7 separate regions of the Homo sapiens genome follow, and regions 1, 2, 3, 4, 6 and 7 are each reported to be linked to region 5. Evidence: microRNA targets listed by miRTarBase, many of them from high-throughput screens and not tested one by one. Region 5 holds a microRNA gene; each other region holds the end of a gene's coding sequence.

Evidence for each region. Region 5 holds the annotated microRNA hsa-miR-4768-3p (CCAGGAGAUCCAGAGAGAAU, at 1,090-1,109, opposite strand). A microRNA usually pairs through its seed, bases 2 to 8, with sites in the 3' UTR of a target mRNA and lowers its output. Matches are read on the target gene's strand: a 7mer-m8 pairs with bases 2 to 8, a 7mer-A1 pairs with bases 2 to 7 and ends in A, and an 8mer does both.
Region 1: miRTarBase lists RUBCN as a target of hsa-miR-4768-3p. Seed matches in the 3' UTR shown: 7mer-m8 at 3,263-3,269.
Region 2: miRTarBase lists SFR1 as a target of hsa-miR-4768-3p. Seed matches in the 3' UTR shown: 7mer-m8 at 915-921 and 7mer-A1 at 1,032-1,038.
Region 3: the mRNA of CENPQ is a reported target of hsa-miR-4768-3p. Seed matches in the 3' UTR shown: 8mer at 805-812.
Region 4: miRTarBase lists PLEKHG2 as a target of hsa-miR-4768-3p. Seed matches in the 3' UTR shown: 7mer-m8 at 2,473-2,479, 8mer at 2,592-2,599, 7mer-m8 at 2,782-2,788 and 7mer-A1 at 2,894-2,900.
Region 6: miRTarBase lists UTP15 as a target of hsa-miR-4768-3p. Seed matches in the 3' UTR shown: 7mer-m8 at 1,660-1,666, 7mer-A1 at 1,674-1,680, 7mer-A1 at 1,773-1,779, 7mer-m8 at 1,969-1,975, 7mer-A1 at 3,004-3,010 and 7mer-m8 at 3,110-3,116.
Region 7: the mRNA of TMEM9 is a reported target of hsa-miR-4768-3p. Seed matches in the 3' UTR shown: 7mer-m8 at 625-631.

Annotation. Positions count from the first base shown.
Region 1 is chr3:197,671,329-197,675,395 of GRCh38, forward strand. RUBCN (rubicon autophagy regulator) reads right to left here. Exons shown (of 20, transcript NM_014687.4): 20 at 1-3,868. The coding sequence ends at 3,690. It overlaps MIR922 (microRNA 922), which reads right to left and starts at 3,248; the gene lies at 3,168-3,248.
Region 2 is chr10:104,124,958-104,129,016 of GRCh38, forward strand. SFR1 (SWI5 dependent homologous recombination repair protein 1) reads left to right here. Exons shown (of 4, transcript NM_001002759.2): 4 at 556-1,426. The coding sequence ends at 747. Among named protein-coding and RNA genes, the nearest start is that of SFR1, 4.8 kb to the left of the region's middle.
Region 3 is chr6:49,491,582-49,495,648 of GRCh38, forward strand. It overlaps CENPQ (centromere protein Q), which reads left to right. Exons shown (of 9, transcript NM_018132.4): 9 at 563-1,526. The coding sequence ends at 694. Among named protein-coding and RNA genes, the nearest start is that of GLYATL3, 6.3 kb to the right of the region's middle.
Region 4 is chr19:39,424,660-39,428,726 of GRCh38, forward strand. It overlaps PLEKHG2 (pleckstrin homology and RhoGEF domain containing G2), which reads left to right. Exons shown (of 19, transcript NM_022835.3): 19 at 1-3,756. The coding sequence ends at 635. Among named protein-coding and RNA genes, the nearest start is that of RPS16, 9.3 kb to the right of the region's middle. RefSeq lists an enhancer at 3,394-4,039 and a silencer at 3,810-4,067.
Region 5 is chrX:17,422,969-17,427,035 of GRCh38, reverse strand. It overlaps MIR4768 (microRNA 4768), which reads right to left and starts at 1,155; the gene lies at 1,082-1,155. All of the region lies in intron 1 of NHS (NHS actin remodeling regulator), which reads right to left.
Region 6 is chr5:73,579,502-73,583,568 of GRCh38, forward strand. UTP15 (UTP15 small subunit processome component) reads left to right here. Exons shown (of 13, transcript NM_032175.4): 13 at 376-3,879. The coding sequence ends at 593. Among named protein-coding and RNA genes, the nearest start is that of UTP15, 16 kb to the left of the region's middle.
Region 7 is chr1:201,131,923-201,135,986 of GRCh38, reverse strand. TMEM9 (transmembrane protein 9) reads left to right here. Exons shown (of 5, transcript NM_001288565.2): 5 at 172-1,215. The coding sequence ends at 324. Among named protein-coding and RNA genes, the nearest start is that of ASCL5, 6.8 kb to the right of the region's middle. RefSeq lists a silencer at 1,234-1,440.

The DNA.
Region 1 (4,067 bases), not on the chromosome of region 5:
GCTTCTAATCATTGTTCCACTGAGGCGCAGGGAGGAAAATAATGTATGATCAAGAACACCTGAATTTGTGTGCTAGTGGCAGAAAAGTAATGAGAGATTTATTTTAGAGGAAAACATCCACAGAACTTGATGACAGGGAGTAGGAATGAGACGATGCGTGATGAGCTCAGTGTGCCACTTACAGAGGAAGTTGAAGACAATTAATTTTCAAACCTGGGTGACTAATGGTTAGGTTTTTGGAAATACGGAATTTATGCTGGTTTTAGACACACTGGTTGGAGATGACAAGGGGACATTTAAGGGGAAATGTTGAGAGAGTTGCAGCGTAGAGCTGGAGCTCCAGTGGGCCAGGAGCAGAAGAGAAAGATGCTAGCTGCTCACAGAAGTGGGAACTGAAGCATCTAAGGCAAGTCAGATGTTGCGGAGAGGAAGACACCTCATTTTAAGTGACAGTTACACCATGCACCAGAAACCCAGAGAAGTGAAGTGGTTCGCTCGAGGTCTCATGGCAAGTTAGAGACACAGCCACTCCACCTCACTTTCCTTGATGTGTGTGGTCCAGTTTGCTTTACATTATAACACAGAAACCTTCTCAATGTTCAGATATACCTGCTTTACAGTGGACACATGCCATTTCTTGACAGTCAAGGCAGGCTGACGAAAGACAGAATTTTATTTCCTTAGTTTATTAAAGATGACAATGAACTGCCAGGCTGCACAAGCACCACAGCAGGTGGAAACGCAGTTCAGAGCACGGGCGGCACACACGGAACATCTCTACTAAGACTCGCACTCCTTTTATGTTAGTTCAACGAAAGCTCTAAATCCTTGGCAGAGAACGTCAAAAACAGCCTCATTTAAGTGGAAAATATTTGTCTTCCACTCTTCTGCTATGTCTTGAATCTTGTCTCCACCTGGTAAGCAAACTATGTTTTTTTTCTTTCCCTTTACTTACAGAAAGAACACTATCACCTGCCTTCATTTAGAAGGAATTCTCTTCAGTGCATTCAAAGCTTCTCCCCGCAACAGCAGGGGATTTTCAGATAGTGGTAACTTGCAAAGTGCTTCCAAAACATCCCATCCTCTACCCACTTCCCCCCTCTTGAATAAATAACTGGGTATTTGGAAGGTGAGGACGGCATCGTGTCAGAGTCACTAAAACAGACGCACGATCTAAAGGGATGGGGTGCGGTTGAGGGAGCTAGGGAAAAATAAGTGACAAGTGAGGAGCCTATGAGACTGTTGAGTTCGGCTTCAGAAGCTGTCAGCATTGTCATCCTTTGATCCTATGCTGATGTGAAACAGGCAGGACAAGACGGCACATCTGTCCTCCAGCGCAGTGACCTGGAGAAAGAGCTGGATGTGTCACCTTTTTGTTTTTTGAGACGGAGTCTCACTCTGTCACCCAGGCTGGAGTGCGGTGGCGCAATCTCGGCTCACTGCAACCTCTGCCTCCCAGGTTCAAGCGATTCTCCTGCCTCAGCCTCCCAAGTAGCTGGGATTACAGGCGTGTGCCACCACGCCCAGCTAATTTTTGTATTTTTGGAAGAGACAGGGTTTCACCACATTGGCCAGGCTGGTCTCAAACTCCTGACCTCATGATCCGCCCGCACTGGCCTCCCAAAGTGCTGGGATTACAGGTGTGAGCCACTGTGCCTGGCCTGGATGTGTAATTTAAACCAAAACTGGAAGTAGAGCTCATTTTTATAAACTCCTGGGTCTGAATCTGGGACCTAACCCCTAGTTAAACTTGAGTTCTGTGGGGTCATTCTTAAAGCTCCCTGAAGGACCTGGGCACTTCTAGTCACAGCCCTTCAGAACTTCTGGGACTTGGCTTTTTGAGTCTCACTATGAACAGAAGGGAGAACAGCCTCAGGGTCTTCTAGCCCTACATGGCTTTCAGATCCCAACTTTGAGGCAGAGGAATCAAGGGCAGGGGCCAGTTCCCACATGTTCCCTCTCACGCTGGTGGAGCCTCAGCCCTGGCCATCACCTTAATGCCTCTCCCACTTCCCTGGGAGACTCCTTCTTACCGCCAGCTCAAGCTCTCATCAGCTTCCACCAACCACAGGCAACTTTCCGCTCAGCTTCCAGGGCAGCACCCACGCCCATTTCTTTCCTACCAGCAAGCAACTATGAGAAGACATGCCCATGGGCAGAATTCAATCCCAGAACAAAAATGATGCAGGCTTTAGTTCACAGAGCTGCCAGCTCTTGGAGAAGCCACTCTGACCAGTGTTTTCACAGAGGTTAGAAGCTGCATCAACTTAAGGAACATCACAAACACACACATGGCCCCACCCAAGGACTTCACTGTCAACACACACATTAACGGGGGGGAAGGGGGAGGCAGCACACCAAAATCAGCATTATCAAAAGGACTTCACCATCAACACACATTAACGGGGGGAGGGGGGCAGCACACTAAAATCAGCATTATCAAATGAACAGATAAACATTACCAGGCTACACAGAGTTAAGTGCATAATTGGCATAAAGGCTCTTGTTATCCCAAGAACACAGGGACATTCACACTCACATCCACAAACCGTCAAGTTCTGTAACAGCACTAATAGCAGGAAGCTTTTCTCCAACTTTGACCAAAGAAGCTAAGGCAAGAGAGACTCGGCCACCAGGGAAGGACCCAGCTCTGCTGCAGGAAGGGGAGAGAACGGAGTCGGGTTGTACTTTTACTCAGAAGCACAACGACCATCTAACAGAGGACAGAGTCATCAGGGACACGCTAAGAAGATGGTGGGTGAGGTTCCTGTCCTCACCTTAGGATGGCATCAGGGACCTGCCTGAGCTTCAAAGATCACACCTGCACCAAAAAGCCAGGTTAACTAAGAGACCTTAACACCAAGAGGGGGCCGACCGCTCCTCTGAGTAAGCGCTCCTTCAGCGACAGAGCTGGCGCCTCACGTATGCTTGCGGCGTAAGGCTACAGGTGAGCCTGGCCTGAGCATCAGTTCTGTTCTTTGCTTCAAGATCACCAAGGTAGATGAAGAAAGTCAGCTTGTGGCATCCTCTATGCTTCAAATATTTCAAACAGGAACTCCCGGCAACATAGGGACATTCACAGCTGCCTCTGAGGTCTCTGAGGAGTCTAGGATAGTCAGGATTGTTCTGTGGCCCCCAAAATACCCAAATAAGTGGACGAAATGCCCATGACGTAGTCCTATTCTCTGCTGCTTCTCCTCGGGGCACAGTCTGACCCCAGTCCAGGACAGGGAGAGGGAAAACGCCATCCCCGTTTCAGCAGCAGGAGAGGTGGTTGAGAAAGGCCTGGCTCAGAAGCTCCAGAACTGAAACAAAGGAAAATTGGAAATGATACCTGACATGCAGGTGAAACCTAGAGGAGAAGGCCACAGACGCTGGAAGAACTTGGTCTTGCTGTCTCTTCCACTGACAGAGGCACTAGAAGCTTCACTGAAGGACCCGCATGTCAGTTCTGATGGAAACACCTGGTGTTTACAAATTATCTGTCACCACAGACTCTGGACCCATCAACCTGCCGACGGCTGACTGCACACAGACGTCAGACAAGTCAGTAAAAAAAAAAAAAAAGATGATGATAATTAAAAAAAAAAAAAAAAAAAGAAGCCCCAGGTGGGGCGAGTCCTTCAAAGAGTGGCTCAGTTCTGCAACAGGTGTGACCCGGCCCGGAGGGAGGGCTGCACGTGCTTTCTTCAGGTGGCCTCCAGGACGGCGGCTTCCAGGGCCAGCGCTTCCGCGGGCTCCTCCTCGTAGTCTGACAGGTAAGACTCCAGGCTCTGCCTGGCCAGTGCCTCCCGCCGGGCCTGCAGCCGCTCGCAGCGCGGACAGCTTCCAGACTTGAAGCAGGCTTTATGGTAACACGCTTTACACTCTACTCAGGTTGGGAAGGTGGGGGAGAGAAGAAAACAATTTGTATTATCTCCAGCTAGAGGTCAGTTGCTGCCACAGCCCCTTCTCGCCACCAAGGCGTGGTGTCCCCTGGGGAGGCCCCGCGAGGTGCTGAGTGGCACCGAACTCTTGCTAACAGGGGTGGCTCTGGGGAATCAAGGAGCCCTGTGTTCAGGCTCACT
Region 2 (4,059 bases), not on the chromosome of region 5:
GGCTAATTTTTTAAAATTATTTTTTTGTAGACATAGAGTCTTGCTATTTTGCACAGTGTAGTCTTGAACTCCTGGGCTCAAGCAGTCCTCCCACCTTGGCCTCCTAAGGTGCTGGGATCCCAGGTGTGAGCCACCATCCCCAGCCTAAAAAAATATTTTTAACTTGAATATTGTAATTTTAAAGAGCAGTTTTAGGTTCATAGCAACATTTAGTGGAAAGCATAGTGTCATTTTTTAAAAAGTACAGTTGTAATACAGTAGATTTTTCCCTGTATTATTGCTTCTTGACATAGTTTTGGCCCTATTTAATGATTTGATTTTTCCCTTATCATAAAGATGGCCCAGAGCTTAAGCCAACAAAATAGCCATAGAACTCAAGTTGAGTGACATTGTAACCATTCTACATATGACCATCCTACTTTTTCCTAGATAGAAGTCCCATTCATCCCTGTGTATGTTAGCCTTTAAACCTGCACATCCACTAATTTAACAACTTTAATTAAGTTGAACTAGCATGACTAGTTATTGACATACATGTTTTTTTTTCTGTTTCAGAATGATCTGTCTCAGTTACAGTTGTTAATAAAGAAGTGGAGAAGCTGTAGCCAGCTCTTGCTTTATGAGTTGCAGTCAGCTGTGTCTGAAGAGAACAAGAAACTAAGCCTTACTCAATTGATAGACCACTATGGGTTAGATGATAAATTACTACACTATAACAGAAGTGAAGAAGAATTTATAGATGTTTAATTCCTGATTTTTGCTCCAGAATATCTTTGAGAATGACAACTTAATTAAAAGATACTTAGGCACTTTTTTTTTTTTTTTGAGACTGAGTTTCGCTCTTGTCATCCTGGCTGGAGTGTGATGGTGCGATCTTGACTCACTGCAACCTCTGCCTCTCGGGTTCCAGCAATTCTCCTGCCTCAGCCTCCCGAGTAGCTGAGATTACAGGCGCCCGCCACCATGCCCGGCTAATTTTTGCATTTTTAGTAGAGACTGGGTTTCACCACGTTGGCCAGGCTGGTCTCGAACTCCTGACCTCAGGTGATCCACCGCCTAGGCCTCCCAAAACCATTAGGGCTCAGAGGAAGGTATCCCAATGAATATCAATTAAGGGCACTTTAATATATAAATTATAAACTAAGTTCTAAAAGGAAAATTAGTATTTTGGATAGATTTGTCAAAACGACATTTAAGTCATGTTTAAAAAGTCATTTGGGCAGTTCTGGAAACTAGTTTTAATACATTTGTTTTTTATGACAAAAAGTTTTATTTTAAATGTTAAAAATTGTCCAATCTGGTGAATGTCTAACCCTAAAGTTTAAAAATTTCTGCCTCCTAAGTTTATGTACCTTGTTTCCATCCATTTACCACATATTTCCATCTGATAGTCTAGCAGGTAATTAAACTTATATGTCCAAAACCATATTCTTCCCTGTCTCTTCAAATGTGTTTTGCATATTCATCATTTAGTGAAACAACCATCTATTTCTTCTTCTTTTTTTTTTTGAGACAGAGTTTTGCTCTTGTTGCCCAGGCTGGAGTGCAATGGCACGATCTTGGCTCACCGCAACTTCCGCCTCTGAGGTTTAAGTGATTCTACTGCCTCAGCCTCCCGAGTAGCTGGGATTACAGGCATGAGCCACCACCCTGGCTAATTTTGTATTTTTAGTAGAGACGGGGTTTCTCCATGTTGGTTAGGCTGGTCTTGAACTCCTGACTTCAGGTGATCTGCCCGCCTCAGCCTCCCAAAGTGCTGGGATTACAGGCATGAGCCACCACACCCGGCTAAACCATCTACTTCTTATAAAACTACATTTCCTTATCTCCCACCCACATGAAGGTATCATGGCATATAAGGTTCTTCGCATTTGTTTGCCTTTCTAGCTTCATCTGTGAAATGGGTTAAATTTAGATTGGTTATTCTATTTATGAACCCACCTCCACAGGTTGGGTTTCTGCTGCCAAATTATACAGTTGTACCTATCATTTTGGCCATATATGGAGATAGGACCCAAACTGGGCCAGTCTCTGAAAATTTGGAATTTAGCTCAGGAAAAGAAAGCCCATCTCTTTTTGTGACTGCAGCTGTTGTATATATACCTGGAAGCAGCAGAGCTGACATGCTTAAGGGCAGTGAGTGTGCTTACCGAGAAAGGCAGAGGTGATAGGAGAGAATTTTATGGATCAGTGGCTTCCTGGTTTTAGTTGCTAGTCATTCTTAAGAGCTTTCTGGATTTCTGCTTTTGGGTCCTTTTAAGTGTTAAAACAGCTTTACTTAGCTTTTTCAAAAGCACTTCCCTACTAGTTTAGCACTCCTCTGAACCCCCCTCAAGTACATCCCACTTTCAGTCCAGTCCCTCCACATAATCTAACCAGTGTTGAATGGTTGGCACAGCAGGAGACGCCAGGGCCCTGCTTTTGTGTCCATTCTAATTGTTAGTGCCATGCCAGTAAACTCTTACCCTGCCCACATACACAAATTCCTGTGCCGCTGGCCTTTATGAATCTGAGGAGACTGGCCCAGACATCATATGAGCTGCCTCTAGCACTGGGATTCCTAGATGGGCACCCCTGTGGACTTCTACTGTTCTAGTGCTTATCAGCCAGCCTCTTATCACTGCTTGCTGCCAACCAGGGGCCTAAATGTGGCAGGGGAAATGTTGCCCCTTGTGGTGGTGCTGGCATTTTGTAGGTCATTATGGTATTTCTCCAGATCTCAGAGGCTGCAGCTGCCCACTGCTGACAGGCACATCACCTGGAGCCACCCATATATATACACTTGGGGGAAATACAGCATCAGCGAGACTCTGGTTCTGGGAAAGCTTAGGGGCATGGTAATGGGGATTTCCAGGGCATTGACTGGGTGCTGAGGTTCCAACAGCACAGCAGCTGCTCTGTTGGATTTAATGGGATGCTTTTATTAAAAACCACTGACTATGACAGCTTTACTTATAAAAATGAGAGCTAATACAACATAGCACTTGTTTTTAATTTTAAAAAACTAGAATATTCCAGTTTTAAAGAAGAAGAAATATAAGATAGTTATTTCAAAATTAAGAGGTTATTTAAAACTCCAATGGCAGAGCCAAGATTTGAAGCCCAGGAATAGATCCTATAATTTTAATTCCTATGCATAAAGCCATACTGTGTCTGATCCAGTTAATTATATCACTAGTTGATAATATAAATAATATTTTAAAGGACTATAAAATATGAATATATTTGCTGTTCAGCAGAAGCTGAGAGGAGTCAATACCATGAACAGTATTAAGAGAGGAGTTACTGTGCATGACCCACATGTCCTTCCAAAGCCCCAAAACCAGAAGGTATCTCCCGTTGAAAGGGCTTCTGGAATAGGGCTTGATGGCAAGAGGTGCCCACTAAGCCCCACTCCATCCATGCCTCAAAGTAAGGCAGTCAAGCAAGGAACATTGCCAGAGTCAACAAAGGTTGATGACTAAGAAATAGAAATGATGCCGGCTGCTTTGTTAAGACCTGGGAATCCACAGAGCATTATCTAGTGAAATTTGTGGCACTACTAGCAAATGGAGTCTCCAGACAGCTAACTTAGGTGAAAATGGAGTTTGTGTCACCAGAAAAGATTGTAAAAAAAATCAAGTCTAGTACATCTATGGTTGACTCAAACCAACAGGACAGAGAACTTCTGGCAATACCATCTTAAGTATAAAGTATTTGCACCCCTACCCTGGGGTCTGTCCCCACAACTCTCATCTCAGGGATAATTTTGAAGGACCCCAGATGTAGGAAATGGTACCCATGGGCACTTCCCTACTGAATACGCCAAACTGACTACTTCATGAGTCCGTCTAGTACAAAGGAGGGGAATCATCAAAGTGTTGGTCCTATCATTTCCCTTACCATCCCCATCCAGCACAGATCACTATGTGGGTGATCAATTACATCTTCTAAAGATTTATTTTGCTAAACAGAAGATTTTATAGTAGCTCTCTTGCTTTATCTACATCAGTGTATATTGGATATGGTACTGAGGATTAAACTTAACGTTGAGTTCATAAATTGCAGAACAGTGAGACA
Region 3 (4,067 bases), not on the chromosome of region 5:
GCATTGGAAAGTCTTCATGTTTTCTCAAGAAGTAATTTGAAATTTTCCTATTGGCTGGGCACAGTGGCTCACACCTGTAATCCCAGCACTTTGGGAGGCCAAGGCAGGCGGATTGCCTGAGGTCAGGAGTTCGAGAACAGCCTGACCAACATGGAGAAACCCCATCTCTACTAAAAATACAAAATTAGCCAGGTGTGGTGGCACATGCCTGTAATCCCAGCTATTCGGGAGGCTGAGGCAGGAGAATTGCTTGAACCTGGGAGCTGGAGGTTGCAGTGAGCCAGGACTGCGCCATTGTACTCCAGCCTGGGCAAGAAGAGCAAAACTCCACCTCAAAAAAACAAAAACAAACAAACAAACAAATCCTATCATTTACCAGTGGTGAAAGGAGCAGGATGGGGAGAGGGAGAGATAGATTTGAAAGAAGAATGGCGATTCGTTGACAATTATTGAAGTTGGATGATAGATACTTAAGGTTTATTTTACTGTTCTCTCTAACATACATTTGAGATTTCTCATAATAAAATGTTAACAACTACATTTAATACTATCTTTCCCACAGAAAGAAATTTTGGCGCTAATTCCAAACCAGAATGCTCTTCTAAAGGACTTGGATATTCTTCATAATTCATCACAGATGAAGAGCATGTCAACCTTCATTGAAGAAGCCTATAAGAAACTGGATGCATCTTAAAGAGTGTTTTTTTTTTAGATTGTTCCATATTAATTTAATGTTCGTGAATTTGTAAAACTGTTAACCTATGATTATATGTACAGAGGCTAAGGCTTCTGCAGGATTTATTATCTCCTGATATGCACTTTAAAATTAGTCTTTGTAGTTCTATCATTAGCATCTAATGTAGTTCTGAAGACTGTTTTTAGCAGTTGCCAAATCTAGGAAACTAACATTTATATTGCTGTATCTATAAGTATTTGCCTAAAACCATAAAATAGGAATTGCCTTAAGGATCTAGTAGTTTATAATGCCTGAATGGAACTCATTTATTGGTTAACAGCTCATATCAGGAGCTGTGATAAGTAAGTGTTTACATACACTGTCTAGTGCATAAAAACCTTAGTGTTTGCTATCATTCATTCTGTAGCCAATGGCTTACAGTTTCTGTCTGGTCATCTGGAACTTGAAAAATCCTCAAATGCCTTCACTCTTTTACCTAACTCCCTAGTCTTTTTGGGAAGTAGTTAAGATATGCCTGCTATCTTTAACTTTGGAGGTAGTATCAAAATTTTACTTCTTTGGTTGTTTAGTGAATTAATGTTGAATATTTTCTACTGTCATCAAAACATATTCCCAAAAAGTATTAAAAAGGAACCTTAGCACATTTATTTTATTAAAACAAGAAAACCCAAAATATATAAACCTTTTCTTATTATGATAATAAGCTTATATATGTGAATAAGTTATAACCTAGTGTATAAAAAATTATTTCTAACAAACTACAGTATACTGTCTTGGGTTTTTTTTTTTTTTTTTAGTCTGTAAAATAAAATGACTGCAATTACTTTTTTATGTGACCTATAATATCAGTTAATTTGGGAGATGCCATAATTCTGTTAACACCCTTCAGGCAGAGACCACTGGCAACAAACCTGTAGTTAAACAAGTTGGGTTTTCAGTGTAGTGAGGAGATCACACATGAGGACCCTGGGGCAGCTCAAGAAAAGGGTCACAAGCAATATCCTCATAGGAATAATGGTAAAGAAGGCCTATTAATAGATTTTGGAGGAAAATAAAATCTCAAAGAAAAACCTGGCAAAGTGACTAAAAGTAAAGATTATTACAAAATGTCTTAAAAACCCTTCACTTGGAAACTTAAAGCTTCATGTTTTTAGAATGAGTAGTAGAGCCCTAACTCAGTGATTTTTAACACTAATGTTATAGTAGCTTTTGGTGGTGGGGGAGGAATTATGTATGCCATTTCTCTCAGGGCATCTGTTTAACAGATAACTGATAGTTAACTGGGATTTTAACTTACCATTGTTGCTGAGTGATACAGTTCTTCACCCTGTGTGAACTGGCCATACTACTCTTGTAGCTTTGAAGAGTTTATAATCTAACTTTAAGAGATCTACAATATCTTCTGGTAGGTAGCATCCAATCCAAAACATACACAGTATTTTCTTTAAATAAGACTGCATTTTGGTGTACTCTTTGGAAAGAATTTAAGAATTAATTACAGATCTGTTATGGTTTGCCTAGGGTTTATTTGGCCCCACCAACCTCATGTTGAAATTTGATCCCCAATATTGGAAGCGGGGCCTGGTGGGAGTTGTTTAGATCATGGCGTGGATCGCTCATGAATGGCGTGGTGCCATAGATGCTGGTGCCATGCTTCTTGTACAGCCTGCAGAAACATGAGCCAAATCTCTTCATTAATAAATTACCCAGCCTTAAATATTCCTTTATAGCAACACTAAACATACTAAGAAAATTGGTATTCAGGAGTGAGGCATTGCTCTAAAGATGCCTGAAAATGTGGGAGTAGCTTTTGAACTGGGTAATAGGCAGAGGTTGGAAGAGTTTGGAGGGTTCAGGAGAAAACAGGGAAGACAAGGGAAAGTGTAGAACTTCTTAGAGATTGGTTAAGTAGTTGTGTACCAAAATGCTTATAGAAAAAGAGACAGCAAAGGTCATACTGAGGAAGCCTTAGATGGAAATGATGAACTTATAAGTTACTGAAGCAAAAGTCACACTTGTTACACCGTAGCAAAGAACTTGTCTGCATTGTGTCCATGCTCTAGGGCTTTATGGAAGGCTTCATTTAAGAGATGGCCTAGGGTATCTGGGAAAAGAAATTTCTAACCAGCAAAGTGCTCAGGCTGCTGCATGGTTACTTCTAACTGCTTACAGTAGAGACCAGAGGAAAATTGGAAAATGTGCAGCCTTGCCTTGTGTTAGAGAAGGAAAGAAGAGTGTTTTTAGGAGAGGAATCTAAGAGTATGACCAAGCAGCAGCAATAGTTTGCTAAAGAGATGAGCATGACTAAAAAGGGCCAGGTGCTAATAAGACTATGGAAAAAATGTCTCAAAGCTATTTCAGAAATCTTTGCCACCCCTCCCATCACAGATTAAGAAGTTTAGAATGAAAGAATGGCTTTTTGATGGGGCAGGTGATACTGCTCCCCACACCCCAGCGGCACCAGCTCAAAGGGCCTCAGGCTGCTGCTCTGGAAGGTGTACCCAGTAAGCCTTGGAGACTTCCATGTGGTGTTAAGTCTGCAAGCATGCAGAATGCAAGAGTAGTGGAGACTTGGCAGCTTCCACTTACATTTGAGAGGATGTATTAGAAAGCCTGGGTGCCCAGAAAGAAGGCTGCCACAGGGTCTGAGAGCCTCTACTAGAGAAGTGCCTAGTGGAGCAGATGGAGCAGGGGCACCACTCTCCAACCTCAGAATGGTAGAGCCACCAACAGCTTACAATCTCAGCCTGGAAGAGCTGCAGGTATTGGATTCCAACCCACGAGAGCAGCTACGTGGGCTGCACCCAGCAAAGCCATGGGGATGGGGATGCCTGAGGCTCTGGAACCCACCCCTTGAACCAGTGTTCTTAGGATGCGGGACATGGAGTCAAAGCAGATTATTTTGGAGCTTTAATATTTAATATCTGTCCTGATAGGTTTGGGACTCACATGAGGCCTATTACCCCTTTCTTCTGGCCTATTCCTCCCTTTTGGAATGGGAATGTCTGCACCACCACTGTATCTTGGAAGTAAATAACTTCTTTTTTTATTTTACAGGTTCACAGTTGTAAGGAACTTGCCTTGAGTCTCAAATGAGACTTTAGACTTTTGAGTTGATGCTGGAACAAGTTAAGACTTTGGGGGATGGAATAATTGTATTTTGCAATGCAAGAAAGACATGAGATTTGTTTTTCATGCCACCAAATCTTATGTTGAAATTTGATGCCCAATATTGGAGGTGGGGCCAGATGGGAGAAATTTGGGAACAGATCCCCCATGAATGGCTTGGTGACATTCTCCCAGGAGTAAATAAGTTCTCTTGGTTCCCATGAGAACTGCTTGTTAAAAAGCCTAGCATCTCCCCATCTCT
Region 4 (4,067 bases), not on the chromosome of region 5:
CGGCTGCACCTCCACTTCCGGAGCCAAGCCTTACAGATACACAGGTCCAAAAACTCACACCTTCGTTGGAGCAGAAGAGCCTCATAGATGCCCATGTTCCAGCTGCCACACCTTTACCTGAGAGAGGAGGCTCTCTAGACATTCAGGGCCTCTCACCCACCCCAGTTCAGACCACCATGGTTTTGTCCAAACCAGGAGGCTCCTTAGCCTCTCACGTTGCCAGGTTGGAGTCTTCAGACTTGACGCCACCTCATAGTCCCCCACCTTCCAGCCGTCAGCTCCTGGGCCCCAATGCAGCTGCCCTCTCCAGATACCTGGCAGCCTCATATATCAGCCAGAGCCTGGCTCGGCGGCAGGGGCCTGGGGGAGGGGCCCCCGCAGCCTCCCGGGGCTCCTGGTCCTCTGCTCCCACGTCACGGGCATCTTCGCCGCCCCCCCAGCCCCAGCCACCACCTCCCCCAGCCAGGCGGCTCAGCTATGCCACGACGGTTAACATCCACGTGGGCGGGGGTGGGCGGCTGCGGCCAGCCAAGGCCCAGGTCCGGTTGAACCACCCTGCTCTCTTGGCCTCCACACAGGAATCTATGGGCCTTCACAGGGCCCAGGGGGCTCCTGATGCCCCCTTCCACATGTGAGCCAGGACATGAGGCTTCCCTGAAGCAAGGATTTCAGCCAGATGCCATAGACCCTCAGAACTTGACCTGGAAGTCCAGACACTGAACGCAGGCCTCAAAACTGCTGCGGCCTTCCAACTCCTGGTATCTGCATCGGCGAATGGCCCTTCTTGCCTTGATCCACAGGGATGGGGAAGGGAGGAATGTCATTAATGTTTTGTTAATACTGATTCTTTCATGCAATGATGTGTATTTTCCCATTCTGGAGGCTGTGGGAGATGACAAGACAATGAATGGGAAGGTCTGACACAGAACAAATCAGCGGTTCTGAAAGCTTGGGGAATCTCAGACTCCTTTGAGAATTATTGGAAAATGGACCCACTATAACTTGGCGTGTGTGTGAACTGCTTGATGCCCATCCAGGAAAGCCAAGTTAAGAAGCTTTGCTTCAAGTAGACACTAGAAATCCATTCCCTTGGCAATTTATACAGTTCACGTCTCCCACCATCCGTTCATCTCACCCACCCTGCCATCTCTCCACCTATCCATCTGGCTATTGCTCCATCTAGCTTTCCCGCTCCATCTACCCATCTTCCAATCCATCATCTCACGTATCTGCCTTGCTTATCCAACTGTCTGCCTTATTCACCCACCCATCCCTTTATCATTCTAACCCCATCTGGCATTCCATCCCTCCATTTATCCATCTTCCCACTTACCCATCTTCTCCATCCAGCACTCCGTTCATCAGTCCGTCTCTCCCTCCATATTTCCATCTGTCCATTCATCCACTCATTTTGCCATCCATACATATTCACCCAGCCATCTCCCAATCCATCGACATACCCCATCCCTCCCTCACTGGACTCTCCGGGGTCTTAGTACTATGATACTTCAGAGACAATTCCATGCTGATACGGGGGAGATCAATTTTGGGGCTCTGGGATAAGTCTGTCCCACATCTGTCTGATTTCCCTTGGCATCCTTCCCGTCAGTTCCTCTTGAATATCCCAGTTCTTGTACCCACTCACATACCTCAGATCCCTTCACTCCTCCCCGCAGTTTGCAGCCTCTACAATTCATCCACATGCTCCCTCCCCCAGCAAAATAATTCAGGTCGTGGAGACAAAAGGCTTTTATGTTAGGTTCTGTCTGCCCCCTTGTTCCAGCAGTGGTATGCCCAGTGAGAGGCACAATTTAAACGGTTTCTTTGGTGATGATATTAGCTACTTTCATCAAATACTTAGCCTCTTGTGCTTTAGCACATTATTTATGTAAGCTCCCCTAGGATTCTCTGAAGCACCCTGGTGTCCTGGCTGTGAATTCAAGTCCCATCTTTACTTATTTGGTGTGGGTCCTCCCTCTGAGCCGGTTTTCTCATCTACAAAATGAAGACAACAGTACTTCCCTCCTGGGATCATTGAAAGATTTAGGGAGCATATCCTTCCACTTCCCAAACATATTTGAACCTCTGACTTGCTTAGGAGCATCATTCAAATCACAGATCCCCCAGTATCTAGTCCCAACCTATTGAATCAGGATCCCCAGGGAAGGAGGAGCTTGGGAATCTGATTTTTTTTTTTTTTTTTAGATAAAGTCTCACTCTGTCACCCAGGCTTGAGTGCAGTGGCAAAATCTTGGCTCATTGCAACCTCCACCTCCTGGGTTCAAGCAATTCTCATGCCTCAGCTTCCCGACATAGCTGGGATTATAGGCGTGCACCACCATGCCCAGCTAATTTTTCGTTGTTGTTGTTGTTGTTTTGTTTTTGAGACAGAGTCTCGCTCTGTTGCCCAGGCTGGAGTACAGTGGCACGATCTTGGCTCACTGCAAGCTCCGCTTCCCGGGTTCACGCCATTCTCCTGCCTCAGCCTCCCGAGTAGCTGGGACCACAGGTGCCCGCCACCACGCCCGGCTAATTTTTTTGGTATTTTTAGTAGAGACGGGGTTTTACCATGTTAGCCAGGATGGTCTCGATCTCCTGACCTCGTGATCCTCCCGCCTCGGCCTCCCAAAGTGCTGGCATTACAGGCGTGAGCCATCATTCCTGGCTGGGAATCCGAATTTTTTTTTTTTTTTAGACGGAGTTTCGCTCTTGTTGCCCAGGCTGGAGTTCAATAGCATGATCTCGGCTCACTGCAACCTCTGCCTCCCAGGTTCAAGTGATTCTCCTGCCTCTAGCTGGGATTGCAGGCGCCCACGACCACGCCCAGCTAATTTTTGTATTTTGTAGTAGAGACGGGATTTCGCCATATTGGCCAGGCCATAGTGGTCTTGGACTCCTGACCTCAGGTGATCCGCCCACCTCGGCCTCCCAAAGTGTTGGGTTTACAGGCGTGAGCTACCATACCCTGCCCAGGAATCTGAATTTTTAGCAATCAGTTAGCAGCAAATAAGCTGAGATTTCCTGGGTACTAAGCACATACTATGAGCATTACAGCCGCTTTATATAAGCTCGTTCACTGTCCTCATTACATTCCTAATATGCAAGTGAGCATGTTTTTTAATCCTCAGTCTAGAGGTGAGGAAACTGAGGCAGGCACAGAGAGGCTAAGGGATTTGCCTAGTCGCACAGCTAGGAAGGTGCAGCACTGAGACTCGAATCCACACAGCTTGGCTTAAGTCTACCATTAAATTTGCCTGTCCTGGCCAGGTGCGGTGGCTCACGCCTGTAATCCCAACACTTCGTGAGGCCAAGGCAGGTGGATCACTTGAAGTGAGGAGTTCGAGACCACACCAGCCTGGCCAACATGGTGAAATCCCGTCTTTACTAAAAATACAAAAAATTAGCTGGGCGTGGTGGTGGGTGCCGGTAATCCTAGCTACTCAGGAGGCTGAGGCAGGAGAATCACTTGAACCTGGGAGGTGGAGGTTGCAGTGAACCGAGATTGCGCCACTAGACTCCAGCCTGGGAGACGAGCAAAACTGTCTCAAAAAAATAAAATGAAATACATAAATAAATGTGCCTATCCTGTGCCGGGTGCTGTTCTTGCCAGTGGGGATACATGAGAGAACACTGCCTTGCCCGCATGAGGCTTGTGGCCTGGTACTGTGCACACCTCAGGGGATTCTGATAATTAGCTGAGCACAGTTGCCAGCACAGGGCCTGGCTCAATAAATATTAGCTGCTGGCTTCTGCTCACTTACTGTTTATTGACTGGCTACTGTACACCAGGGCCGAGGCTGTGTCCCGGGGGCCCCGTGGTGACGGAGGTGAACTCCTCAGCCTGGAGTGATCCACTCCACTGGAGCCTCCCCAAGGTCAGGACCGCAGCCGACGCTCCCCTCCTCCGCCCCAGCTGCACATTCCCGGCTGAAGGAAAGTTCTCAGCCTGGCCCAGGCTCCCAGCGGCGTCGGAATTCCCGGTATTCGAGGAGGCAGGGAGGGAGAAGGGGCCTGTCTACTCCAAGGCCTGGAGCTGGGAAGGAGAGGCAAGCCCCTTTCCAGTCCAG
Region 5 (4,067 bases):
CCAAGTGATCTGGGGTTATAGACAGCAGATTAATCTCAAAGCTGGAACTTCTTTAAGACCAGGAAGTAGCCCCTTTTCTGATTAAAAGACAAGTCAATAATTCTGGGTCCTTGGTCCACCACTGTGATATGTCCCTTGCAAAACAGGCACTCTCAGGCAGTCTTCCCTGCAGAGCAACCATGATGGATACTGACTACTGACTTGAAAGTGCTTTGACACCCCCAGATGGAAGGAACTAATCAATTATGCTTCTCACTTAGAGGCACCCTGCTCATTCATGCTGAAGATAGAAGTCCAGATAAAAGTAGAATTACTGGGAGTCCAAGATCCAGAAAGAAAATGAGAGAGCTCAGCTGGTCACTGTGAATGATGTGCATGTGCCCCAAGCCTTTGAAACACATGACATTTTCCAGCAGCCAAGCACTCATCAAATTGCAGAATGTCGAAGCTACAAGGAAACTTAGCAATTATTTAATGATCTAAATTACTTTTATTATAGTGAAGAGGAAGCTGAGGCCTAGAGAGGTAAAATAACCTGTCATATAGCTGAGCAGCGAAAGGAACAGACTCATTACCCTAGTGATCTCCTGTCACACAACCCATCTCATGAAGCTCTCTCTCAGGTCGAGTTTAATAGATGAGAGAACAAGGGGTAGTCTGCCTATGCAAAGCAGGTACACACAATGAGATCAGAGCAAAGGGGATTTCCTCCCCTGAAGCTAAACAGCCCCCATAAGTGATGTTACGTGTTAGGATAATTTCCTTGGTGTGCTGGAAGATGTTTCACAAGCATGGGTGGTGGGGACCCTTATTTGCCATATTTGCCAATTTCTATAGTGTAAATACTCTCATCATGGCAGATTTCAAGCTACCAACTTGATGCCACTGAACAGCAGTTGGGGAGAGATATGTGCAATCAGCTCTTGTGAGCTGATAGAAGCTGGATCCTCCACACCACTGGAATTTCTGAGAAGTCTACATCACGGGTTTAGGAATGAAATAACTTTCTGGCCCACAAGAATAAAACACCCAGGTTTATGAGGAAAATCCTAGCAGCACACACTCTAGGTTTCACTCACTGAAACTCTGATTCTCTCTGGATCTCCTGGACATCACAGTTCCCATATCCATGGGATCCAGAGAGAATCAAAGTTTGGAGAAGTTACTTGGTCCATCATGTCTGTATCTCTGGGTAGTATCCTACCTAATTGATCCAAGGCAGGAGCACTGAGAGGTGGAATCCACATTCCCTATCTTAATGCTTTTGGCAACCAAGCATTCCTTTCCCAGCAGTAACAGGATCCAGTTTCCAAGGTGATATGTGAGCTCAGAGCCCCATCTTTACCAACGTCAAAGGCAGTGCTTGGATTCAGCTTCAGGTAGGCCTCCTCTGTTCATGTAAGCAGGAAGGAAAACATGTAAAACTGAATTCCTCCTCAATTTCTTTCTTTCTTTCTTTCTTTCTTTTTTTTTTTTTTTTTTTTTTTTTTTTTTTTTTTTTTTTTTTTTTTTTGGCTGAGAAGAGTTCCAAGGCTGGGGCAGCAACTCATCAGGAAAAGTTCTTAGCCTGTGCTTTCTTTTTGCCAAACATTGATTTGCTAATAGAGAAAATAACTGGTGTATAAACAAAAGTGGTTGATGACATCCAAGGGTCTGGAGCAATTCCTCCACATCGTTCTGACAGCTAACAAATGGAACTAGCTCTTAGGGAGCATGTTTAAGGAACAGCTGGAATATGTAACGGACATTTTTCTGTGAATTTGACAGGTCAAGCTCCATCACGGTTGAGCTACGCTCACCGGACGTGGATCAGAATGAACTCTGCCATTCCTCAGAAGGTTGCCAAGAGGGCTTTGAAGAGAAGGGAATCCAAGGAACTCAGTTTCAGACATGGAGAAGAATAAAGACCAGACAAATCATGAGCAAACCTGATTTAAAGAGAAAGATCTATAAATACCAGTTGCTCAGCTTTCTCCCTGGTTTCCTGACCCTATGATGAGCTCCACCAAAATTAAGTAAGTATAGCCCTTTCCAGAGGGTCACTTGGAGGGAAGATCCTGCCATATGTCGCCTATTGGTCTTTAGCCTCACCACCACCCCAACATCTGATAAAGTCAACAGACGTGAGTTCCTAAAGGATACAGAATATACAAGATACTTTCCCTTATACAAGGATTCACTCTAAGCATCGTTAAAATGGCAAACTCACCTGGGACCCCTAAGATAACCTGATTTACCAAAATCTGGTTTATCCTTAGCATATGAGGAGCACATCCATTCTCTAAAGCAAGGAGATTTTCAAGATCAATGAGCAGAGAAACTTCTCAAAAGAATTTTATAGAATTTTTTAAGATAACAAGCAAACTAACAAATGATTGAGTAAACCTGGTACTATTCCTTTTCTTCTTCCAAACTCAAGGGAGTTATTCCAAACAATAACATACCTAGAAAAGAACCTGTGAAGATTGCAAGATTATCTAAAGAAGCCACCGGGGCAAGAGCGGTGGACATGCTTCTCCACACGGCCCTGCACCCAGACCACTCATTGTGAACTCCACCCAAATGCATAAACCTTTGGGAAGCAAAGGATGAATTGATTAGCTGCAATCTGTAGGCCCAATCAATCCATCTCCACACTGTAGGGACCTGCACAGAATCTCTCCTTAAAGTCTAGTCTTTCATGAGGAGAAATTCACCTCATAAAAGACATGATCAGAAGACATGACAGCCTGGAGGAGCAAACTACTGCTAGGTCAGTGGAAGTTCTCCTCCTGTTTGTGAAAGTGAGGAGAAAAGCACAGAGCATTTGTCCCTCAGCTTGTCTCCCTTGCAGTCTTCTCACTTATTATAATTCAAAAATTACCTCCATTTCAAGGAATCCTTCTCCTTCAGAGCTTTCAGCTCAAGGTGGCCTGGTTTGATCTCTCCTGACACCACTTCCTCCCTCCACCCCAAAGTAGATTAGGATCACCTTGGATAACCACCAGAACTTGATGATTAAAACATTCAGAGCAAAAAGATCTTCAGAGGTCATGCCAACTGATAAGCCAAGTTAGTAGCAAGGCATAAAATAAGGCATTACTGTCTTTGTTCTGTGCTGATCCATGCATTGTCCTACCTACCATGCCAGCACTTTGGTCTGTGAAATATGCAGAAAAGGCAAGAGAAACACAACTGCTGACAAGAGGATGAGGAAAGGAAGAGCACTTCCAGCAGGCATTCGCTGCCTTGCCTTAATACTTAGCACTTCCACAAGCCTTTTCATCTTCAAAGCACTTGAGGAACACTAGCTAATTAATCCTCCCAACATCCCTGCAAGGTGAGGAAGGATTATCTCCATTTTACAGATGGAGAAATGGAATATTTTGAACACAGGCATAAAACCCAGTGACAGATAGAATTGCCAGAAACTGGGCTGGGATCCTTCCTGGTGTCTTTGATGCCCACTCAAGCCTGCCAAGGTATCTCATCCCCAACCTGAGGACTGCCAAAAGCTCCTAACCAGGATCTAGCCGAGCAGACAGAGGGCCAGAGGCAAGACAGACAAGGCTCTCATGCTAACCCTTCCAAGTCTCTAATTAATTCATTATCTCACTGGACTGTCTGGTTAGGGGAGGCCTCTTTTGAAGCTTAGATGGAGGAGGAGGAGATGCCTGCTCAAGTCTTCTTCTAAGCAATGATTCGATATTCCTCTCTTATATCTTCACCCTGGTTGATATTTTAAACCATTGATGAAGACAGCACATGCAATGATAGAAATCCACATTAAATCCTTCCTGGAACCAAGGCAGGTTCTAAACAAATACATGAAAAGCCATTGGCACAGTGCTTTTATTATTCAAGTTTTCTCATATTTTGAGACAGGACTTTCTCTTAATCAAACATCAGCTGCAAATGCCAGTTGGAACCCTGATCAAAACCTCCTAATTAAATGCAGTGTAGGAATTTCATGTCTATCCCAGGCCTATTACTCAAGGCATGGTTCCAAACTGTGGTGGTCTTAGAATTTCTTGGATTTTTCAAAACGTCTAAAAATCACTTGGAGATTCAGACTGCTAGTGCATTTT
Region 6 (4,067 bases), not on the chromosome of region 5:
GGAGAAAACAACAAGTCAGTGCAGTTTAAAAAGTAGTAAAATGTTTATAGTGGTGTGACTTTGAATTGATGGGACTAGGGTTATTATAAAAAATTTTTTTCATAGACATCTATAATGACGATGACAATTTTTCAAATGGGAAAATGAAAATAAGTCAGGAACTCCACCCTATACTTTCTGTAATTATTATTTTTTGAAATTAATTTACTCAGAGGGATTGTTATACTTTCTATAAATCATTAATTAATTATAAAATAAGTACAGATTTTTCAGTGTTCTTATGTTTAATATTTTTATACTTTTAAAAACTTTTGCTTTTCACTTAATGTATGGAAAGATATTGCTAGTTAATGTGTTTTCTTTCTCTCTTTTTAGATATATATCTGCCTGTAATTGGTCAGTCCCCTGTAGTTGATAAAAAGTTTTTACTACTTCAAGGACTTGTAGAAAAAGAGATTGATTACCAAAGAGAATTGTTAGAAACCTTGGGGATGATGGATATGCTTTTTGCCACCATGAGAAGGAAGGAAGGCACTTCTGTGTTGGAACACACATCTGATGGATTTCCAGAGAATAAGAAGATAGAATCATAGTGTCTGCTAAATAAGACATATAAGAACTCTGAAGTTGGAATAGATTTGACTGTATTAAATGTTGGCGAGAGACTCTCTTTGATACATTAAAAAAACTGTTTGCAGAAGCAGTTCTGTGGAAGAGACTGGAATAATTATGGCCGGAAAACAAGTACCCGTTTTAAGTAAGACATGGTTTTCCATGTAATATTTTGAATTATAGCATCTTCACCTAGAAGATCTCAATTGTCTTAGTCACAGAGTAGGTTTATCTGGGATGGATATTAATTTTAATACAGGAGTGTTCTGTATCAACATTTGGGTTGGTATTCAGATGGGAATTCAAATATGAATCCTCTCTGGAGAGGGTCCAACTGGGAATCCTGCTAAAGGAGCAAAGCCTTGTATTACCTCTGGAAGACAACAAAAACAATTGGCAACAACAAAAAGCCTCTTTCTTGACTTTAATCAGTGCCTTTGGGATTTCTAGGCCCTTGCTTAGCTTGCTTCCTGTCTCCTTGATATCTACACTTGTCTTAGATCACATGCCCTGCTTCAGCTGGTAATGGGACTGCATCGGTTCCAAGTGTGGCAAGTAAGTTTTCGGCTCTGAAGAACTGACACTAGCTAGATTTGTATTCAGAGTGTGAGAGCAAGCTCTACAGATAGACCTTATTGGACTACTTTTTTTTTTTTCTTCATGCAGCCTTTCTACCAAGTTTTCACCTTGTTTCAGGTCAGAGGAATGATAGAATTTGTCATTTTTCTTACAACAGCCTTTCAGACTATTCTTCATATGTTTCAAGCTAATCTTGTAGCTAAGCTACCTAATCCTCTGAAAACTGTTTTCTCTGATTTGTATTTAGATTCCTCCCCCCATTATTCACAATCATATTGTATTTCGGAACCCCAATGCAGAGCAGTTTGCTTTGAAAAATAGTTGTTTTTAAAAGTTTAATGTAAATAATTATTTTTTAGAAGTTTTTTTTTTTTTTTTAAAGACAGGGTCTCGCTTTATCGCCCAGGCTGGAGTACAGTGATGCAATCTCAGTCCACTGCAACCTCTGCCCTCCCGGGTTTAAGCAGTTCTCCTGCCTCAGCCTCCTGAGTAGCTGGGATTACAGGTGTGCCCCACCACGCCTGGCTAATTTTTGTAGTTTTAGTAGAGACGGGGTTTCACCTTACCGGGCTGGTCTAAAACTCCTGACCTCAAGTGATCTACCTGCCTCTGCCTCCCGAAGTGCTTGGATTACAGGTGTGAGCCACTGTGTCCAGCCTGTAACTATTATTTTTTTATAAAGAGAGATTCTTATTTTCTTGGCTTTTTGATGTATCTGTTCCTGATAGATAATCATTGGCTAGTAACTCCTAGTACACTGGTTTCACAGTTGCTACCTCTCCTGCTTTTCTCTAATTATTACGCCAACTCAAGTAGTTAAAAATCAGTAAGAAAAATGTCTTGAGCTAGAAGAACCCATAGAGGAAGATTTTGTAATGCGAATCTCCTCTCATAATTTTAGTTCTGTAAATTCAGGGTTTTTTTTTGTTTTTTTGTTTTTTTTAAGCCGAAAAAATGCTTAATATGTTCCAGTAAGGGTATTAAGTAAAAATTAAATAAACGTATTAAGTTTAACATATTAAATTAATTTAACATTTAGACTAACATTAACATTTAAATTAATATGTTAAGTGAATATACTTAATATATTCTAGTACAGGTATGCTTGGAAATAGGGCGTTTCCTTTTCATGAATTGATTTCGTACAGCACAGTGGCTTATAAGGAACCAGCAGTGTTTTTCCCTGAGTAATTATGAACTTAGTCAAGATCAGAAGCTGGGTTTTGGGGTTGAGAAGAGTTCATTTATTTAAATAAAGTTTCTATTTAAAAACCTTTTTAAAAAGTTAACATCATAAATATTCTGATAATTTGCATAGTAGTAAAAATTAGAAGTTGAAATTCTACCTAAAGCTGTAGTTGCCGTCAATTGTGTAACATGTGACAAAGGTTTTCCCATATGTCATTTCATTTGATTCTCACCACAACCATCCAAGGTTGATGTTATTCTCATTTAACATTGAGTTAACGAAAGTAGTTGATTCACTCTCGAAGTCCCTGAGTGTGAGCTCTTCATCCTAGCACTGTGAAGTGGTTTGCCTGCTGGGGCCTAAACTCCTCATTCCCTTTAACAAAGCTTCACTGAGTGCTGCAGTTCTCAAAATATGTAACAGTTAACACATTTTTCAAACAGGTTAGGAAGCAATTCCCATAGCCATCAATACTTAAATTCAGGAGTACTTTTTTGTTTGTTTGTTTTGTTTTGTTTTTAGAGACAAGGTCTCTTTCTGTTGTCCAGGCTGGAGTGTAGTGGTGTGATCATAGCTCACTGCAGCTTCTGTCTCCTAGGCTGAAGCTATCCTCCCACCTCAGCCTCCTGAGAAGCTGGGGCTACAGGGATGAGCCACCATGCCCAGCTAATTTTTTATTTTGATTTTTTGAGATAAGAGGTCTCACCATGTTGCCCAGGCCTGAGGCAATCTCCTGGTTTCAAGCAATCTTCCCACCTCAGCCTCCTTAATGACTGGGATTAAAGGCATGAGCCACTGCGCCCAGCAGGAATGGTTATTATATTCATTGAGATAAACTGTAGTATTTGCTGTTTGAAGTATTTAAACATAATTGGCATATTACAATATGTGACACTGGCCTTAAGATTCTAATTTAAAATGCTTAACAGACTTTTAGACTTATGAGTTTCAGTTGAAAGGTATTTTAAAATGTTACTAAGTCTGCAAAAGTACTGAAATGTTTCAGAGAACTTGGAAAGTCACCGTATGTTTAATTTATTATGTTTATGAGATTTAAGCACTTGGGAAGGTTTATGCTAATGGGGTCAAGCATTTGCAATGCTGCTTAAAAGAATCATTTTTTTAAATGTATAAATGCTATTAAGTTGTTTAAAGGAATTTGAATTGTAAATGGGATTGTTAAAACAAATTTAGTCTGTTCAACTCAATGAGGGCATTTCATTTTCTAGGAACAAAATACCCTCTTAGACATTAAAAAGCCGCATGCCTGTTCCCTCAGCTATAGTTAACTGGACCATGGTGGTACAACTGACTCAACCCTTCTCTAAGCAGGGATTTGTAATTGGGATTTATAATGAAATTCCTGATCTGGGAAAATGGGAGGCTGGGAATGCTATGTCTAGGTCATCAGCGGAGAAAGTTGGTTTGTAGAGAATGAACAAGAATGAAACCTAAGTGCAAAGAAAATAAAGATTATCCTGCTTTAATAGTTCAGACTAGAGGAGAGAGAAACCATCTTAGTTCCTGATGACTTCCTATTGCCCTATTCTGGTTGTACCTCTTCCCCCAGGGGTCCATGATATTTTTGGATTCCCTCTAACACTTGTTTGCTTAGTTGACTGTGAGTGGTTTTCTCTTATTTACAACCAAATGACTCTGAAAACACTAATCCACTGGTCCTGATATT
Region 7 (4,064 bases), not on the chromosome of region 5:
CTCTGCAGATGACAAGGCAAGGTCCTCAGCCTGCAGCACTTGGGGAGGCCCAGCCTCCCAGTCTGGGGAAGGTAAGGCTTTGGGGTTCGTTCTTTCCATGTCAGACTTTCAGGATCCAAGACCCTTCTGGCTTACCGTGCCAGATCTTCTCTTTTTTTCTTCCCACTACAGGATGCTCGCTCTATGGCAGCAGCTGCTGCATCCCTCGGGGGACCCCGAGCAAACACAGTCCTGGAGCGTGTGGAAGGTGCCCAGCAGCGGTGGAAGCTGCAGGTGCAGGAGCAGCGGAAGACAGTCTTCGATCGGCACAAGATGCTCAGCTAGATGGGCTGGTGTGGTTGGGTCAAGGCCCCAACACCATGGCTGCCAGCTTCCAGGCTGGACAAAGCAGGGGGCTACTTCTCCCTTCCCTCGGTTCCAGTCTTCCCTTTAAAAGCCTGTGGCATTTTTCCTCCTTCTCCCTAACTTTAGAAATGTTGTACTTGGCTATTTTGATTAGGGAAGAGGGATGTGGTCTCTGATCTCTGTTGTCTTCTTGGGTCTTTGGGGTTGAAGGGAGGGGGAAGGCAGGCCAGAAGGGAATGGAGACATTCGAGGCGGCCTCAGGAGTGGATGCGATCTGTCTCTCCTGGCTCCACTCTTGCCGCCTTCCAGCTCTGAGTCTTGGGAATGTTGTTACCCTTGGAAGATAAAGCTGGGTCTTCAGGAACTCAGTGTCTGGGAGGAAAGCATGGCCCAGCATTCAGCATGTGTTCCTTTCTGCAGTGGTTCTTATCACCACCTCCCTCCCAGCCCCAGCGCCTCAGCCCCAGCCCCAGCTCCAGCCCTGAGGACAGCTCTGATGGGAGAGCTGGGCCCCCTGAGCCCACTGGGTCTTCAGGGTGCACTGGAAGCTGGTGTTCGCTGTCCCCTGTGCACTTCTCGCACTGGGGCATGGAGTGCCCATGCATACTCTGCTGCCGGTCCCCTCACCTGCACTTGAGGGGTCTGGGCAGTCCCTCCTCTCCCCAGTGTCCACAGTCACTGAGCCAGACGGTCGGTTGGAACATGAGACTCGAGGCTGAGCGTGGATCTGAACACCACAGCCCCTGTACTTGGGTTGCCTCTTGTCCCTGAACTTCGTTGTACCAGTGCATGGAGAGAAAATTTTGTCCTCTTGTCTTAGAGTTGTGTGTAAATCAAGGAAGCCATCATTAAATTGTTTTATTTCTCTCACTTTCTGGTTTTTAAGAGATTTAGGGAACTAGGAATTTTTCACAAGTGACCTGGTAAATGTAGTATCCCAGAGGGGACAGAGAGCATTGCGTTTTGCTAGGTCCAGACAGGCAGAGCCTTGGGAAGTCCAGGCGGCCGTGGCAGAGCCAGCCACAGTGCAATCAGGCCAAGGCCACGGCTTGCTGGAAGTCCTCCTCACCTGATTAGGAAAGAGGTGGGTAGGCTGGGGCAAGGAGCACAGGGTGAACTGGCCCTTGGGAGTTATCCTGAGATTTTACTTCATGTTTATGGGCAGTTCCTCTGAAACTGAACAGTGCGTGATTCATCCTAATATCCTACAGACACAGTAAATAGCGCTCCCTGCAAAACCTGTAAGTATCCCCAAATGAAAACCAACAGGTATTTGGAGAGGGGTGGGTGGGGGCAGCTAGAAAACGAGCTGCCCCATACAGAAGGAAATGCCAGCAGCTTCAACAGGGACATCCAGGGGAGCCCGGCACTGCGTCAGCTCCAGTATGGATGTGCGGTGCAGGGCATGTCCAAGACCCAGGCAGAGGCAAGGCATCTAGAGGGACTGAGCTGATCTGGTGTCATCAGGGTTGTCCAAATAAACATGGATTAAGAACCTTTGTGGGCTGGGCGCGGTGGCTCACGCCTGTAATCCCAGCACATTGGGAGGCCGAGGCGGGCGGATCATGAGGTCAGGAGATCAAGACCATCCTGGCTAACACGGTGAAACCCCATCTCTACTAAAAAAAATACAAAAAATTTGCTGGGCATGGTGGCGAGCACCTGTAGTCCCAGCTACTCGGGAGGCTGAGGCAGGAGAATGGCATGAACCCGGCAGGCGGAGCTTGCAGTGAGCTGAGATCGCGCCACTGCACTCCAGCCTGGGGAACAAAGCAAGACTCCGTCTCAAAACAAAACAAAACAAACAAAAAAAAACCTTTGTGTGGGCCCCCATGCTGGGTTCTTGGAGAGGTGTGGGAGGCAAGAGAACGACGTGAGATGGGGGGTCAGTTTGCAACAGTTTGCCAAAGTTCCAAGACAGAAGCGTAAAGGGGATGGGACTGGGGTGACCTGCAGATGGGGCTCCCAGGAGGAGCAGAGACTCTGGTTGGCATTGGAAACAAGGGACACAGCTGAGAGGGGACCAAGTGGATTGTGGGGTCCTGAGCAAGTGCACTTAGGAAGTTTGTGGTAGGGCTAGCAAGCGATAGATGTGCCCCCAAATGCAAGGCTGGGACAGAGGAGTTGGTGCTGACAACATTTCTACTGGGTCATTTACTAGACAGCTGCTCAGTGCCTACCAGGGTCAAGTACTGCTGTGGAAGCTACAGTGGGCTATTTTATTCTTTCAGGATGGGGATGCTCTTATTTCAAGAGGCATACAAAAGCAGCACTTTCCAAAGGTGGGCAGGTGGGTGTATTAACTTAGCAAGAATAACCAGGCCAGAAATTGGTGCCTAACATTGCCAGGTCTCCCCTGTAAAACCACATGCCCTGGGGGAAACATTGAGTGCTATATTTCTCTGAGGCTTGGGTAAGTCCTGCAGATGATCCAAACTGGCTTTGGTGGTTTTTGGGACAACTGTTGTTAACTATAAATAAGCCGAACTATAAGTCCAGTATATGAACATTTATAAAAGATTAGGAGTGACTGTTCACTTTACTAAGGATTCAACTAGTAACCAAACGTCTCATTGTGTCTCAACTTCACACACACAAAACCCGATTTTCAGACGATGGCAGAGTACACTTCATCTTTCTGTGAATATGAAGGGGCGGAGATCCCCAGCAAAGGGGTGAGCACACTGCTTGGCTGGTATTTGGAACAGAGATGAAGACCCCTGCAGCCAATGATGGAAAAGATCAGAAATGACGTTCTTCACCCTGTCTCGTATGATGTAAAAGGAACAGAACTTGGCTGGGCATGGTGGCTCACGCCTGTAATCTCAGCACTTTGGGAGGCCAAGGCGGGCGGCATCACGAGGTCAAGAGATCGAGACCATCCTGGCTAACATGGCGAAACCCTGTCTACAAAAGATACAGAAATTAGCTGGGTGTGGTGGCGCCTGCCTGTAGTCCCAGCTACTCGGGAGGCTGGGGCAGGAGGCTCGCTTAAACCAGGGAGGTGGAGCTTGCAGTGAGCTGAGATCGTGCCACTGCGCTCCAGCCTGGCAACAGAGCAAGACTCCGTCTCCAAAAAAAAAAAAGGAACAGAACTTGGTGCTGTTGTGTTCAGAATCCTGTCTTCCCTCAAACCCACCAACCATGCTGTTCTGTAATAGATTGGTCCCACCTGGAAAAACAACTGGTTGGGGTTGGCCCTGGGAACCTGAGCCTTAAGAATTGGTCTCCACGATTAGAGACCAGCACTCATCCCTCGTGTGGCTCACAGGGAGGCTGATGGAGAGGCCAGCCTGCTTCCTCGTGGCCTTTCCTTCATTTCTCACCTAGCCCGACTTGGTCCTCCTCCTCCTCTCGTTTCCTGGCATCCATTGTTACACATCTGCCAGCAAAACCCCAATCCCACCCAGTCTGACTTCCCTGCTCCTCCCTGGGCAGCCCAGTGCTGCCACAGAGGCTGAGGGTGCCCTGGCAGGTGCATGGCCTCCACCCCCTCCCTTCCCCCATGAGGGCCAATAATCCTCCCATGAGGCTCACTCTTGAGGCCACTAGACAACCTTCCTGTCTCCCCGTCTCCCTTCCCTAGAAAATCTTGCTTATGACTTCAAGAAAATGGAGTGATTTCTTAACTCAGCCCCATTGTTAAATCATTCTTCATTCATACTCATCCTGACTGCCTTTGCTACAGCCTTGGGGATAGTGTGTTCCTGTTCAAAGCC